Linked DNA regions of Homo sapiens. The protein of the gene in region 2 interacts with the protein of the main gene of each other region in a pairwise test. Each region holds a gene or a part of one and is shown on either strand. Other genes may lie near its edges.

Evidence for each region. The genes of interacting proteins can lie anywhere in the genome.
Region 1: the proteins of RAB35 (region 2) and MICALL1 interact in a two-hybrid assay, tested with the Homo sapiens proteins (one study listed by IntAct).

The regions. Positions count from the first base shown.
Region 1 is NC_000022.11:37,916,297-37,923,320, reverse strand, and holds part of MICALL1 (MICAL-like protein 1), read right to left. Parts: intron 5,615-7,024; coding exon 5,526-5,614; intron 4,286-5,525; coding exon 4,143-4,285; intron 1,350-4,142; coding exon 895-1,349; intron 1-894. UniProt on the Homo sapiens protein: Lipid-binding protein with higher affinity for phosphatidic acid, a lipid enriched in recycling endosome membranes. On endosome membranes, acts as a downstream effector of Rab proteins recruiting cytosolic proteins to regulate membrane tubulation.
Region 2 is NC_000012.12:120,099,743-120,106,766, forward strand, and holds part of RAB35 (ras-related protein Rab-35), read right to left. Parts: intron 4,208-7,024; coding exon 4,084-4,207; intron 1-4,083. UniProt on the Homo sapiens protein: The small GTPases Rab are key regulators of intracellular membrane trafficking, from the formation of transport vesicles to their fusion with membranes.

The DNA.
Region 1 (7,024 bases), on a different chromosome or scaffold from region 2:
TGGAAGGCAGAGATTGCAGTGAGCCGAGATTGTGCCATTGCACTCCACCTGGATGACAGAGTGAGATTCCGTCTCAAAAAAAATAAAAAGAGCCCGGCACAGTGGCTCATGCCTGTACTCCCAGCACTTTGAGAGGCTGAGGTGGGCAGATCACCTGAGGTCGGGAGTTTGAGACCAGCCTGGCCAACATGGTGAAACCTCATCTTTACTAAAAATACAAAAATTAGCCAGGCTGTGGTAGCCTGTAATCCCAGCTACTCAAGAGGCTGAGGCAGGATAACTGATTGAAGCCGGGAGGCAAAGGTTGCAGTGAGCCGAGATCGCACCACTGCACTCCAACCTGGGTGACAGAGTGGGATTCCATCTCAAAAATAATAATAATAGGCTGGGCACAGTGGCTCACGCCTGTAATCCCAGCACTTTGGGAGGCCGAGGCAGGCAGATCACCTGAGGTAGGGAGTTCAACACCAGCTTGACCAACATGGAGAAACCCCGTCTCTACTAAAAAAAAAAAAAAAAAAAAACAAAAAAAAACAAAACAAAATTAGCTGGGCATGGTGGCGCATGCCTGTAATCCCAGCTACTCAGGAGGCTGAGGCAGGAGAATCGCTTGAACCCGGGAGGTGGAAGTTGCAGTGAGCCGAGGTCAAGCCACTGCACTCCAGCCTGGGGGACAAGAGCAAAACTCCATCTCAAAAAAAAAAAAAAAAAAAAAAAAATATATATATATATATATATATATAATAACCTCAAAAACACAGGCAGGCCCCAACACAGCACAGCACACAATGGCACAGATGGAGAGGGGCCCACCAACACTCCCAGACACACAGACTTTTCAATAGACAGTGCACTGCCACCCGGTGCCCCCTGCCCTGACTGCACCCTGCTCACCGTTCACCAGGCTGCTGCTGCCAGCCTGCTCCACCAGGTTCTCCTGCTGCAGACTGGAGCGGGGCCGGGGCGTGGGGGGTGCTGGGGTGGTGCTCTCAGAGGCCTTCCTGGGGGCAGGGGTGGGGCGGCCCGCAGGGGGGCTGGCCAGCTCCTGTAGTTTGCCAGGAACCCGGGGCTTGGTAGGGATCTGCGGCCGGGCCTCAGGGCTGGCCTTGGGTCCATCGGCCTCAGCCCCTGCAGGAGCACTGGAGCTGGGGCCGCCTCCTGGAACATCCTTGGCATCTTCTGCGAGTTGCTGCTGGTGCTGCTGCTTTGGCTGTGAGAAGGGCCCAGGCCTGGTCCCCGACCGTGTCCCCGGGCCCAGCCTGGCACAGTGTTCTGCACACACAAAGGTGCCCTCCTCAGGCCCATTCTCATAAGCCCCAGGGAGCAGGGTGCTGGAGCACCGCCGACACCTGGCAGGGGACAGGACAGGGGTTCACTTAGCCAGGCAGCTGGGCCCAGGCACTGGCTACCCCTCCAGCCGCACCCAGGGCTGTCTCCTCCCTTCCCTCCTCCCAACTGCCAGCCAAGCTCGACTCCATACCCTAGACTTCCCAGAGGATAAAGAAAACAGTAACTGTCAGAAGCATAGTGGAACAATAAAATCACCAAATCACACGAACTCAGCAACAGAAATTGTGAAAAATGCCTTCAGTTTATGCTGCAAGAGGAAGAAGCAAAGGTCCCCCTGAGAGGTGGCATCCAGTGAGTGGCTGCATCCAGTAGTGGCTCAGGAAAATAAAGCAGTGGTTTTTACCCAATCAGGTGTTGTTTTGTGTTTTGTTTTCATTTTGTTTTGTTTTGTTTTTTTGAGATGGAGTCTCACTCTTGTTGTCCAGGCTGGAGTGCAATGGTGCGACCTTGGCTCACTGCAACCTCCGCCTCTCGGGTTCAAGAGATTCTCCTGCCTCAGCCTTCCGAGTGGCTGGGATTACAGGCATCTGCCACCACACCTGGCTAATTTTTTTTTGGCATTTTTAGTAGAGACGGAGTTTCACCAAGTCGGCCAGGCTGGTCTCAAACTCCCAACCTCAAGTGATCCACCTGCATAGGCCTCCCAAAGTGCTGGGATTACAGGTGTGAGCCACTACTTCCGGCTGTGTTTTGTTAATGAAATAGAATAAGATACAATGTATAAGACAGTATCATACAAGAAAGGCCAAATAGTGCTTTGTGAAACTCTTACTCCAGCTGTGCCTCTACTTACACAGTTTTATTTCAGGTAAATATTTACATCTAGTCACAGTGTCAAGTGTATTTTTTACTAGGAGTTGCTATAAAAAGTTTCTTTTTATTTTTGAGGCAGGGTCTCACTGTCACCCAGGTTGGAGTGCAGTAGTGCAGTCATAACTCACTGCAGCCTCAAACTCCTGGGCTCAAGTGATCCTCCTGCCTCAGCCTCCCAAATGCCTAAGACTACAGGTGCGTGCCACTACACTAGGCTAATTTTTTTTTTTTTGAGACGGAGTCTCAGTCTGTCGCCCAGGCCGGAGTGCAGTGGCGTGATCTCGGCTCACTGCAAGCTCTGCCTCCCAGGTTCACACCATTCTCCTGCCTCAGCCTCCCGAGTAGCTGGGACTACAGGCGCCTGCCACCACCATGCCCGGCTAATTTTTTTTGTATTTTTAGTAGAGACGGGGTTTCACCGTGTTAGCCAGGATGGCTTCGATCTCCTGACCTCGTGATCCACCCGCCTCGGCCTCCCAAAGTGCTGGGATTACAGACATGAGCCATTGCGCCTGGCCTAATTTTTTTTTTTTTTAATTTTTTTGTAGAGATGAAGTCTCATTATGTTGCCCAGGCTAGTCTTAAACTCTGGGCCTCAAGCGATCCTCCAGCCTCAGCCTCCGAAAGTGCTGGGATTATAGGCATGAGCCACCACCACACCCAGCTCCGGCCTGTAAAAAGTTTCTAAAACACTGCCCTGGTAGCCAGATGTGACTGTGTTGGTAGAGTCTGTTTCCTCCTCGAGATTTTTCCCCATGACACCCCAATTCTGCGGTCAGGTTCCAGGGTTCCAGCACCAGCTGCCCCCCACTCAGGGGCACACTCAACCAGATCAAGTGCGTGCTGCCACTCCCGGCTTCCTTGACTGTTCAATTTCCTCTTTTGGTTTCATTTTTGAAACATATAAAATGTTTCCATGAATTTTCTAAGTTTTTTTACTTTCCTTGCTGCTTATACCACTCTCTTAAAATCTGGCTTCCCTTGGAAGCCACATACTTAAAGCAAGTTGTTACTGTAATTTTTTAAAACTTCAAGCAGAACATGGTAGCACATGCCTGTAGTCCCGATTACTTGGGAGGGTAAGACAGGAAGATCACTTGAGCCAAGGAGGTTGAGACCAGCCTGGGCAACATAGTAGACCCATCTTAAAAGAAAAAAAGATTTTTTTTTTGAGACAGAGTCTCGTTCTGTCGCCCAGGCTGGAGTGCAAAGGTGCGATCTCAGCTCACTGCAACCTCCACCTCCTGGCTTCAAGTGATTCCTGCCTCAGCTTCCCGAGTAGCCGGGATTACAGGTGCCCACGACCACACCCAGCTAATTTTTGTATTTTTAGTAGAGATGAGGTTTCACCACGTTGATCAGGCTGGTCTCAAACTCCTGACCTCAGGGTGATCCACCTGTCTCGGCCTCCCAAAGTGCTGGGATTACAGGCGTGAGCCACCATACCCGGCCAAAAAAAAATTTTTTAAGCTAAAATATTTCATTTTATTTTTTCAATGGCCTTTTTTTTTTTTTTTTTTTTGAGACAGAGTCTCGCTCTGTCACCCAGGCTGGAATGCAGTAGCACGATCTCGGCTTCCTGTAACCTCTGCCTCCCGGGTTTGAGCGATTCTCCTGCCTCAGCCTCTCGAGTAGCTGGGATTAGAGGTGTGCACCACCATGCCCGGCTAATTTTCAATGGCTTTTAAAGTACACGTGGCTTTTAAAGTGCTCCTTCATCCTCATCCAGTAGTTATCCTCAAAAAGCGTAGGCGCTGGAAGGAAAACCCCTGTGCTCTAACCCTGTTTCTGTCTCGAATCATGTGGCTGAGCAACTGCTTTTCCCCTCACTAAGCCTTGGTTTGCTCATCAGTAAAATGGGGATAAGCCAGGGGCTCTGGTGTGAAGGGCCTGGCAAGGTGCCTGGCGCACTGTGTGTGCTGAACCCACGGTAGCCCCCTCCCTGGTTTCGGGGGTAACACGCGGCCCTGGCCACTCACCGGAAGCAGTGGCGATGGTACAGCCTGCCGTCAGCCAGGTAGCGCTGCACCAAGTGCACATGCTGCTGGCAGGCTGCGCACGTGCTGCTGGGGGTCTGGCCGGTGCCCTGCTCTGACAGGCTGCCTGAGGAGAGCTCCTCGCCCTGCAGAGAACGAGGTGGGGGAGGTTGGGAGCAGGACATGGTCACCAGCCATCCTGTTCACATCACTGCCCTCTCCCTCCCTCCAACGGCCACCGTCACTCAAGTGTGCACCAGGCTTCGTGGTGGAAATGGACTTCATCAGGGCCCCAGGAGGGGCAGAGGGCAGGAGGCTGCCACTGTCTCCCAGGTGAGGAAGCCAAAGCCCAGAACGGAGGAAAGCCTTGTTCAAGGTCACTGAGCCAGTGCGGAAACACGAAAATCCTGACTTCCGGTTTCTGAGGCTTCCCTCCCCAAAGGAAGGCAGCTCCTGGCTGTGCAGCCCCTTCCCCTTGGCGGCTCCTGCCCCCTCCTCCTCCCCTTTGCGGGGGAGCCCCCCTGACAGGTTCCTGTCCTCCCAGGCCGACCTCAGCTGCCTTTTCTGTTCTCTCCTAGAACTGCCACGGATTTAAATCCCAGTTTCTCTACATCCAAGCACAGTGAACCTGAGCAAGCTGCTCAAGTGTGGGCTTGGGTCCCACCTGCAGAATGAAACTGTATAACCCCTGCCAGCCTCAGCCCCATGTACCCTCATGGAGCACCCACCCTGGGGCTAGCTCCCTCCAGCAAAGAGCAGATGGGAGCAGGAGGGGAAGGCCCTTTACACACTGTAAGGTGCCGTCCAGATGTGAAGGGCTGGTGTCACTTCCTCTAAGCCCTTCAAACAGGTGACTGGCAGTTGGCCCCCACTTCCTTACTAAGTAACCTTGGACAAATGACTAAACCTCACTGAGCCTCAGTTTCCTCATCTGTATACCAGGGCCCATAATGCTGACCTCCCTGGGTTGTTGAGAGGATTAAAGGAAATCAAGCCGGGAAGTTTACAGCTGTCTCCACAGGAATCAAGGGGAATCTTTGCTTTACTACGTGTGTAACTCCTGACAGTCCCATGATGGTGAAGTCAGCATTGTGGACTGCCCTCTCTCCCCTTGCCAGAGCTGGCATCTCCTGACCCCACCTGAGTCCTGGAGAAGGAGGTAGGGCTCCCTGCCCATAGAACGGGACTGGCCTCCTGACCCATGCCTCACTGCCCCAGTCAGGGACACCTGTTCCCAAAGCCAATAGGGCAGGGACAGAGAACAAGCACCCTCTGAACACTGTCAGGGCTAACTTCCTCACATGACCCAGTCACTGCAATGATAGTCGTCCACATAACTCGCCCCCTCCACCCCTGGCCCTCCCACCTCTCCAGGTATCTGCCTACCTGAGCCACATCTTCTGGTTCCACTGGAGTGGGTGCTACAGACGGCGGGGAACAGGGTGCAAGGCCCTTTCTGGGTGGCGAGACACCAGCTGCCAAGAGATGAGAAAGGGGTCCTGAAGCAGGTGGAGATCCTGGAGTCCCAGGAGGTCCCAACCTGGCTGAAGATTTGAGACCTGTAGCCATCACCTAAAGGCAGACCACCTAATGCAGTGGGACAGGAGCTGGCTCCCGCTTCACACGGGCCCGGGGACGCTTCCAGTTTTAAGCCAAGTGCTGAGGGCAAGCCATGAACCTCACTGAACCTCCATCAAATGGGGAGAGTGACTCCTACTGCACAGAGCCAATCCGAACAATGGCGCAACAGTACGATCACAGAACACAGCACCCGCGTGTGGCTACACCAGCAGCTTCCCTGCCACCAGGGTAGAGGAGGTGAAGGAAAGGAAAAGAAAGGAACCATATGGTGCTGCCCTGACAGCTCAGGAAAGGCGCTGCCTCCTTGGGGTTGACAAGGAGCTGTCCTGCCTATCCCCAAGTGGGTATTGGGGGCCAGAACCCGGCCTGCACACCCCCTCACCAGAACAAACCCACCCACCCTGGGTTCCTCTAAGACTCAGCTCCTCAGGCCGGGCACAGTGGCTCACGTCTATAATCCCAGCACTTTGGGAGGCTGAGGTGGGTGGATCATTTGAGGTCAGGAGTTCAAGACCAGCCTGGCCAACATAGTGAAACACCATCTCTACTAAAAATACAAAAATCAGCTGGACATGGTGGTGCGCGCCTATAATCACAGCCACTCAGCCACTCGGAAGGCTAAGGCAGGAGAATCGCTCGAACCTGGGAGGTGGAGGTTACAGTGAGTTGAGATCGCGCCACTGCACTCCAGCCTGGGCAACCGAGCAAGACTCTGTCTCAAAAAAAGAAATAAATTCAATAACACTATGGTTGGTGCCAGGAGTGGCTCCAGCTGACTGGGGAGAGGCCCTTAGAAGCCACATGAAGAAGCTGGACTTCATCCTGACATTACTCCCCAACCCCTTTCTGATTTCCCACAGCCACTCGGCTTCCTTCACTCCTGCCCTGGCTCCCTGAGCAGGCTGCAGCTCCTCCAGGGTGGGGGTCTGTCTGTTGTGCCCGGGGTCACTGGCACCCACTGAGCGTGGTGGCACAGCTGAACACTCAGCACAGCACCACGACATCTCAGCCAGGGGCAGGCTCCAAACTTACCCAGTCTGGTAAAAAGTCAAGGCTAGTCAAAGTCACTCTTGAAATGCCTCCACTCGCCCAGAAAGTACAGTACAGGACCATCTGGGGGAGTCGAACAGCCAGCTTTGCCTCCAGAGTTGGAACACATCACTGTTTCCTTTGCTTAAGCAGCAGATGGGATAAAAATGGTTTGCATTTAGGGGCCAAGTTGTATGAAAGGCACAAACTGTACCTTTTCTTTTTTATTACAAAAGGCAGATTTATTAGAGAAGGTATGAAAATACATTGCGAGG
Region 2 (7,024 bases):
CAAAGCCATCACCCCAAACATGCAGAGCCCAGGGCCAGCCAGGAAGGCCAGAAGGAAGGGGAGGCCCAACTCTCCTCTCCAGACCCCATGTCCCCATTCATCCCAGTGGCACAGGACGACATCAATCCCCGGAGGAGGAGGGGGACCACAGCCTCCGCTTCCCCGAGAGCTGTCGAAGAGCCGGAGGCCAGGCGGCAGCCCCGCCCCACACTGTGCAATCAGCCAGAGCTGTCCCTCTGTCCCCTCTCCCCAAAGCCGCAGGGACCTCCACCCCAGGGCTCCTCAGGACAGCACACAGACAAACCATGAGTGGACAGGCCGCTTCCTCCCGGCTTTCTGGCTGCCACCTGCCCCAGCCCTAATTACCTCCACCCCCATGAGGTTCATGGGGACAGCCCAAGCCCCAGTTCAGGAACAGCCCAAGTCAGCGCAGGCTGAGCAAGAATGGGGCAGCCAGGCTGACTTGTGGCTGCAGCTCCATTCCTGTCCACCTGCCCATCAGCTCTCTGGCCAATGCTTCACATCTGAGGCCCGATCTAAGGACAAAGACCAACCCTGGCTCCATCTCTGAAAGGCTGGCCCTTGGGAAGGTGCCTGCATTCACCCTGCCACACCTTGCAGCTTCAACAGTTATAGCACACAGGTGGCTAGTCCTTAACTGGGGTGGTCATGAGGAAGAAAGGAGCTAAGCATTACCCCAAGGCGGGGGAGCAGTAAACAGTCAGTATGCGTTCTTCAGCATCATCAATGTGCCTTCAAGGACAATCTGTGGTCCCAGACAGAGGTGGTGGAAGGAAACCAACAGGCAGCTTAGGGGCAGCCCTGAGCATCTTCCCTGATGCTGCAGAGCCAGAGCTCCTGCCCAGCCCTGGGACAAAGCCCAACCTGCCCCTGCCACCGCCCCTGCCCCATCCTTGCTCCATCCTCAACACGACCGCTGGGATCTCTTCCCAGGGCTTCATTCTGCCCACAGCTTTGCTTCCAGGGCAGCGTCGCTCCTTGGCTTCGGGGTAGCTGTGACGATCAAGCTCTCTTGGCACTGGGCCCAAGAACTAGCTCTGGCCTTGGCAGCTGCTGCTGAGAGCGCCGGGTCAGCACATGGCATGGTGTGTCAGACGCCTTCCAGAGCGAGGGCGCGCCGGAGCCACAGGAACAGGCGACTGTCCCCTGCCAGCAGAGGAAGCCCAAGGAGCGGATGGCTCTGCAGACTCTCCTTTGCTGAAGATGATCAGAGATGCCAAGAAACGCCTGCAGCCATGGCCCCGGCGCACAGCCCCCGCGGCTCCCTGGGCGCCTCTGCCTCATCCGGGGCCCAGGAAAGGGGCTTTATCTGAGAGCAGAGAATTTGTCTGGGGATGAAGTCAGGGGCTCAGAGCTCTGGCTAGGAGGAACCGGAGCACCGACGTTTCCCATGGCCACCAGGAATCACCTTCACTCACAGGGACTCTGCTCTAGGCCAGGCACAGAGCTGGGGGCTTGGTATCCATTACCTTATTAATGTCTGCAGCCACCTGATCCAGCAGACCTCAGGATGGCCATGTGACCAGCAAGGACGTGAGGCTGAGTGCAGCGGCCAGCTGGAAGTCCTGGCGCCCAGGGCTGACTCCCAGGCCCAACGCCAGGGCCTTGCCTTCCTTGTCACTTCTCCCCTCACCTCCATCCCACCCGCACCTCTCAGGGCCGGCAAACCTCAGCTTCTGAGAGCAAGAACCCGAGAAGGGGTGACCACAAGGCTTTTTCTCGCCAGGCTAACAGGATGCAGTTTCAGTTTCTCTCTGAACGCCCTGCATCGGAAAAAAGTCACGCTACTGCATCCTGACTGCCCTATTCCTGAAAACTCCTCACCTCCCCAAAACTCCTTCCTTCTTTGCCAGTGACCATCAAAGGGCGTCGAGACTTCCAGTGGCCCCTCAGGGCGCCCTGCTGGGCCTCCTGCCTCATGAGGGCCAGAGCGGGACTCTAAGATGGAGCCACCTGTCTGCTTCCCCAGACACGTGGGACGGCAGCAGGGGCCCAGCCGCTGCCCACAGGCCGCCCCTTCCCAAGCCCCTGGGGAAAAACCCATGTTGCTCCCAGGAAGCTGAGTGACTCCTCCCCGCCTCCCCACGGAATGGAGGAACCAGTTCACCTTCTTCCCGCTCTGCCCAGCCCAGAAAGCAGCTGACTGCATGATGGCAGGGAGGGGCTGTGGCTCCTCCTGCTGAAAGAGCCTCGGACCCCCCAGGCCCCACTGCCCTGCCCAGGAGTTCATTCCTCATGGCCACGGGCCTCTGAACCTCTGCCACCCTGAACCTCCGCCTGGTTTTAAGGCACAGGACGGGGCAGGAAGGCAGGGGCGCCACCTGCCCAGTCGATGCAGGGCCTCGGCAGACTCAGGGCCAACCCTGAGTGCCCCCAACCTCTGCCCCACTGAGTTAGGAGGCTTCATCCTCCCTGGGCCTGTTTTCCTGTCCATAAAATGGAGATAGTCACAGGTCTCTCTACCGGGATTAACCAAAATAAAGCAGCTGAAATCCTAGCGACAGGACCAACCCAGAGCAAGGATTCATGAGGTCAGCGCCCAGACCAGCCAACGGCATGAGGGCTTGCCTCGCCTGGGCCTGCAGCCCCAGGCTGCCCAAAGCACTGATGCCAGCCCTGCCCCAGTGTCCTCCGCAGATTCTCACTGGCAGCTGCCAAGACATGCAGGCCACAGAGCCCTCGCTCACAGGGCTCATCAACGGTCACCACACAGCACCACACCAGGGCGACCCCGGGACTGGGAGCTCCCAGGGATTCCGGGCATCACGGGCCACAGCACAAATGTGCTCAGCATAGGGTGAACCCAGTGACAAGCCCTCCGCCTTGGCTCCAGCCCCAGGAGCTGCTCGCCCAGCACACCTGTCCCTCTCCAGCAGCCCTGCTCTCCCCCATACTCCCAGCCATCCATGGGGGCGCTGCACCCCACACTTCCCACCCTCGGGAGATGCCGAGGGGCCCGGGGGCAGGGGCAGCCAGCCTGGGGAGTGCCGGGCTTTCATGCTGTGGGAAGGAAGGGGGCCGCTGGCTGGGACTTCCTCATTCGCCTTCCTGAGGTCACTTCCAGAGGAGCTGCTCGAGAGAGCCAAGGAGGTGCCCGTGGAGCCAGACAGCCGCCCCTCACTCTGCACAGGCCACTGTGTGGAGCACAGGCTTGGCCGCTGGGAGGGACCCCTCCAGGGCGCCCTCTGTCAAATGGGATGACAGCAGCACCAAGCACACAGAGCTGCCAGACACCACACCCCGGCACGCACGTTGACGCCTGCAGCAGAGCACCTGGCACCCTCCACATGGAAGCCAATCCCAGAGGCAGGCCCTCCAGGAAACGAGCGCAGAGAGCTTCGGCAACTTGCCTAAGGACACACAGCCCAACAGCTCCAAATCGGCCCCTTCAGACCCTGCTCTTTCCTAAAACCTGCTCCACTAACAACCCAATAACCAGGAGCCGCTCCGAAGGACACTGCCCATCTGCGCAGGAGCCCAGCTTCCCCCCGGCCTGCAGCTCAGCCACAAAGGTGGGCAACCGGTGGGCGGCCGGATTTCCCAGGAACAGCTTTAAGGGTAGGGAAGGGCCTGCTGACATGCACCGTGTTCGTCTCTAGACAGCGTCACTTCCAAGGCATCAGTGCAGGTGACGGGAGCCTGCACAGGCCAACTCCAGCTGCCATAACTGACACCTACCAAGAGGAATTGTCAGCGACTAAGTCCTGGGTGGGCAAGGCACTTCGCAACCCCCTAGCGAGGCAAATGCTATTCTGCTCTCTCTGTAAGGTGACGGCACAGTGGGCCGGAGGGTCGGCTGACTCTCCAAGGAGATAGAACATGGCCACTGTCCGGCCAGACTCCAGCCAGGGTGCTCAGCGACTCCCCCACAGCACCCCCCTCACATCTTCAGGACCAGGAAGGGTGCAGCCAAACGCCACCTACTACAGCCAACAACAGGCTCACTTCCCGACAGCCTCAGGGACCCACCAGTGACATTTCCACCATGACCAGGCACCGGTCGCTCAACTGTGTCCACAGGTCAGTGGCGCGGGTTGGGTGGGAGTGGGCGTGTGGACTCACGTGGAGGTGATGGTGCGGAAGCGCTCCTGCCCCGCTGTGTCCCAGATCTGCAGCTTCACCTTCTCCCCGTTGATCTCCACGGTCCGGATCTTGAAATCCACTCCGATCGTGGTGATGTAGCTGCCTGCACACACAGGGCAGTTAACGAGGCCCAGCGCGGTATCTTCCCAGGCCCTGAGCCCCACGCTGCACACAACACACCCCCAGGCTCCCCCACCCTCCCGACTCATTACATGTGCCTGGTACATTCTAGGTCCCAGGGACACAGCCCTGAACATCCTTGTTCACAAGGCCCCTCCACACACAAGTGAAGGAGGGAGACAGGATGCAAGCAAACAAACAAAGAGGACAATTTCCGAGAGTGAAAAGTGACACATAGGAAATAACACGGGATGGGACTGGCGGGAGTGGGACAGGCTCCTTTAGAGTGGCTAGATGGGGACACACCAGCTATGTCTGAGAATGGTAGACCTACGGGCACTCTGGGTTTTTCTTTTCTATTCAAGTCAAAAAAAATTTAGGGCCCTCAAAATTCACTTCCAAACACACAAATAGGTCATGAGCTGCAGTCTGAAAGCCACTGCTCCAGGCAGGGGAGACAGTAGCAAAAACAGCCGTGAGTGGGGGCGGTCACATGAGGTCAAGCCTGCCGCCCAAGGCAGGCAGAAAGTGGCGAGGCCAGATCTTGGACCTGTGTGCCACTTCCAAGAACGTGGACTTTCTCTCGTGTGTGCTGGGGAGGCACCAAAGGGTTTTAATCAGTGGCATGAGCTGCTGCATTTTAAATAGCTCTCTTGCAGCATCTGTGGGAAAAATGGATTTTTTTTGGTGGGGGGGGGACAGCGTCTCATTCTGTCGCCCAGGCTGGAGTGAAGTGGGATTGCACCCTTGACCTTCCCCCAGGGTCTGATAATCCTCCCACCTCAGCCTCCTGAGTAGCTGGGACTACAGGCATGCGCCACCACGCCCGGCTAATTTTTGTGTTTTTAGTACAGACGGGGTTTCACCATGTTGCCCAGGCTGGTCTCAAACTCCTGACCTCAAGTGATCCGCCTGCCTCAGCCTCCCAAAGTGCTGGGATTACAGGCACAAGCCACCGTGCCCGGCCTGAAAGATGGATTTGAGGAGAATTTCTAGCCGGTGTAATTGCCCAGTCCAGCTTTCCAAAGCCTGACACTAGGAAGAGCACAGCTTCTCACTCCATTTGGGGCTTATGCTATAACAGTGCAGGAGACACCACACACACACACAATTATGTGAAATGTGGCAAGGGCGTAGGAAAGGTCAAATTCCAAGGTGGGGTGGGGAACAAGGCAGGCTTCAGGGAGGACGTCACATCTGGGCCTAGCTTGAAAGAACAGGTAAGACTTCAAAGGTTGAGATTAGGTAGGGGAACGACATCCCACTCAAAAGCAAATAGCTGAGGATGATACGCAACCAGAACACATTCAGAAAAGCGGCCAGCACCCGGGGTCTTCCAGCCAGGGGAACGCCAAGGAGTGCAGCCCACTGCCTAGCACAGTTAGGCTCCCCAGAAACAGCTGGTGGCTAACGAACCAAGCAAGCCAAAGAACAAAAGAATGACCAGGGGGTAGGAGGAAGCCAGAAAGGCGAACTGAAAACAGACTACGAGCGCAGTGGTTCTCAGCCGGGATGACTGTCCCTCCAAAGGACACTCAGCAATGTCTGGAGGCATTTTTGGTTGTCACAGCAGGGGGAGGGAAGTGTTGCTGGCATTTAGTGGGTGGAGGCCAGGGATGCTGCTCAACATCCTTCGACACGCAGGATAGCCCCACAACAAAAATCACAGGGCCCAGACCCGGCGCGCTGGCTCACGCCTGTAATCCCAGCACTCTGGGAGGCCGAGGTGGGCAGATCACGAGGTCAGGAGATCAAGACCATCCTGGCTCACATGGTAAAACCCCGTCTCTACTAAAAATACAAAAAATTAGCCAGGCGTGGTGGCGGGCACCTGTGGTCCCAGCTACTTGGGAGGCAGGAGAATGGCGTGAACCCGGGAGGCGGAGCTTGCAGTGAGCCAAGATCACACCACCGCACTCCAGCCTGGGCGACAGAGCGAGACTCCGTCTCAAAAAAAAAAAAAAAAAAAAAAAATCACAGGGCCCAAAGGGTCAACAGTGTCCAAGTGAAGAAATCTTACTGTAAACTCTGTGCAGGTGAGAGGGGCCACTGAGGTTTTTAAACAGAGAAAAGACCCTACCAGACACACACATGAGCGGTTCAGGGTGGGTAGGGGTTGCCGTAATGCTTCCAGGTAGAACCAACAGTAAACTGAGATGCTGGTCGTAGAAATGGAAAGGTGGGAAGAGATTGCAACAACAAGCCCTCCAAGCACTGAACACAGATTGGGATGGGGAGGGAGGAGGCCATTAAGGAGGAAGAGGAACATTTTTTAGCATAATTAGAGGCTGTTAATCAGCTATCATTCTTAAACAGAAGGTTAACAGCCAGTCGCAACAAATAGCTGGTATTTATTGAGCAATTACTTAGTCCCAGGCACTGCAACCTGCACTATCTCAGGTCATCCTATAACAACCCCATGGGGAAAGGACCATTATGATTTCTACTTTACACATGAACTGAGGCTTCTATTTTACAAATGAACTGGCTAAGGTCACACAGAGCAGCCATCTCTTTCTAACACCACACCACTAGTGAGATTGCAGGGACAGTGTCAAGGAAACAAAGGGGGCAAAACCCACTTCTCCACCAAGAGACATCAGCTATGGAATCACTTTCTTTTTCTTTTTTTTTTTTTTTTTTTGAGACGGAGTCTCACTCTGTCGCCAGGCTGGAGTGCTGTGACAAGATCTCGGCTCACTGCAACCAACTCCCTGGTTCAAGCGATTCTCCTGCCTCAGCCTCCTGAGTAGCCGGGATTACAGGCACATGCCGCCACACCCAACTCATTTTTTTATTT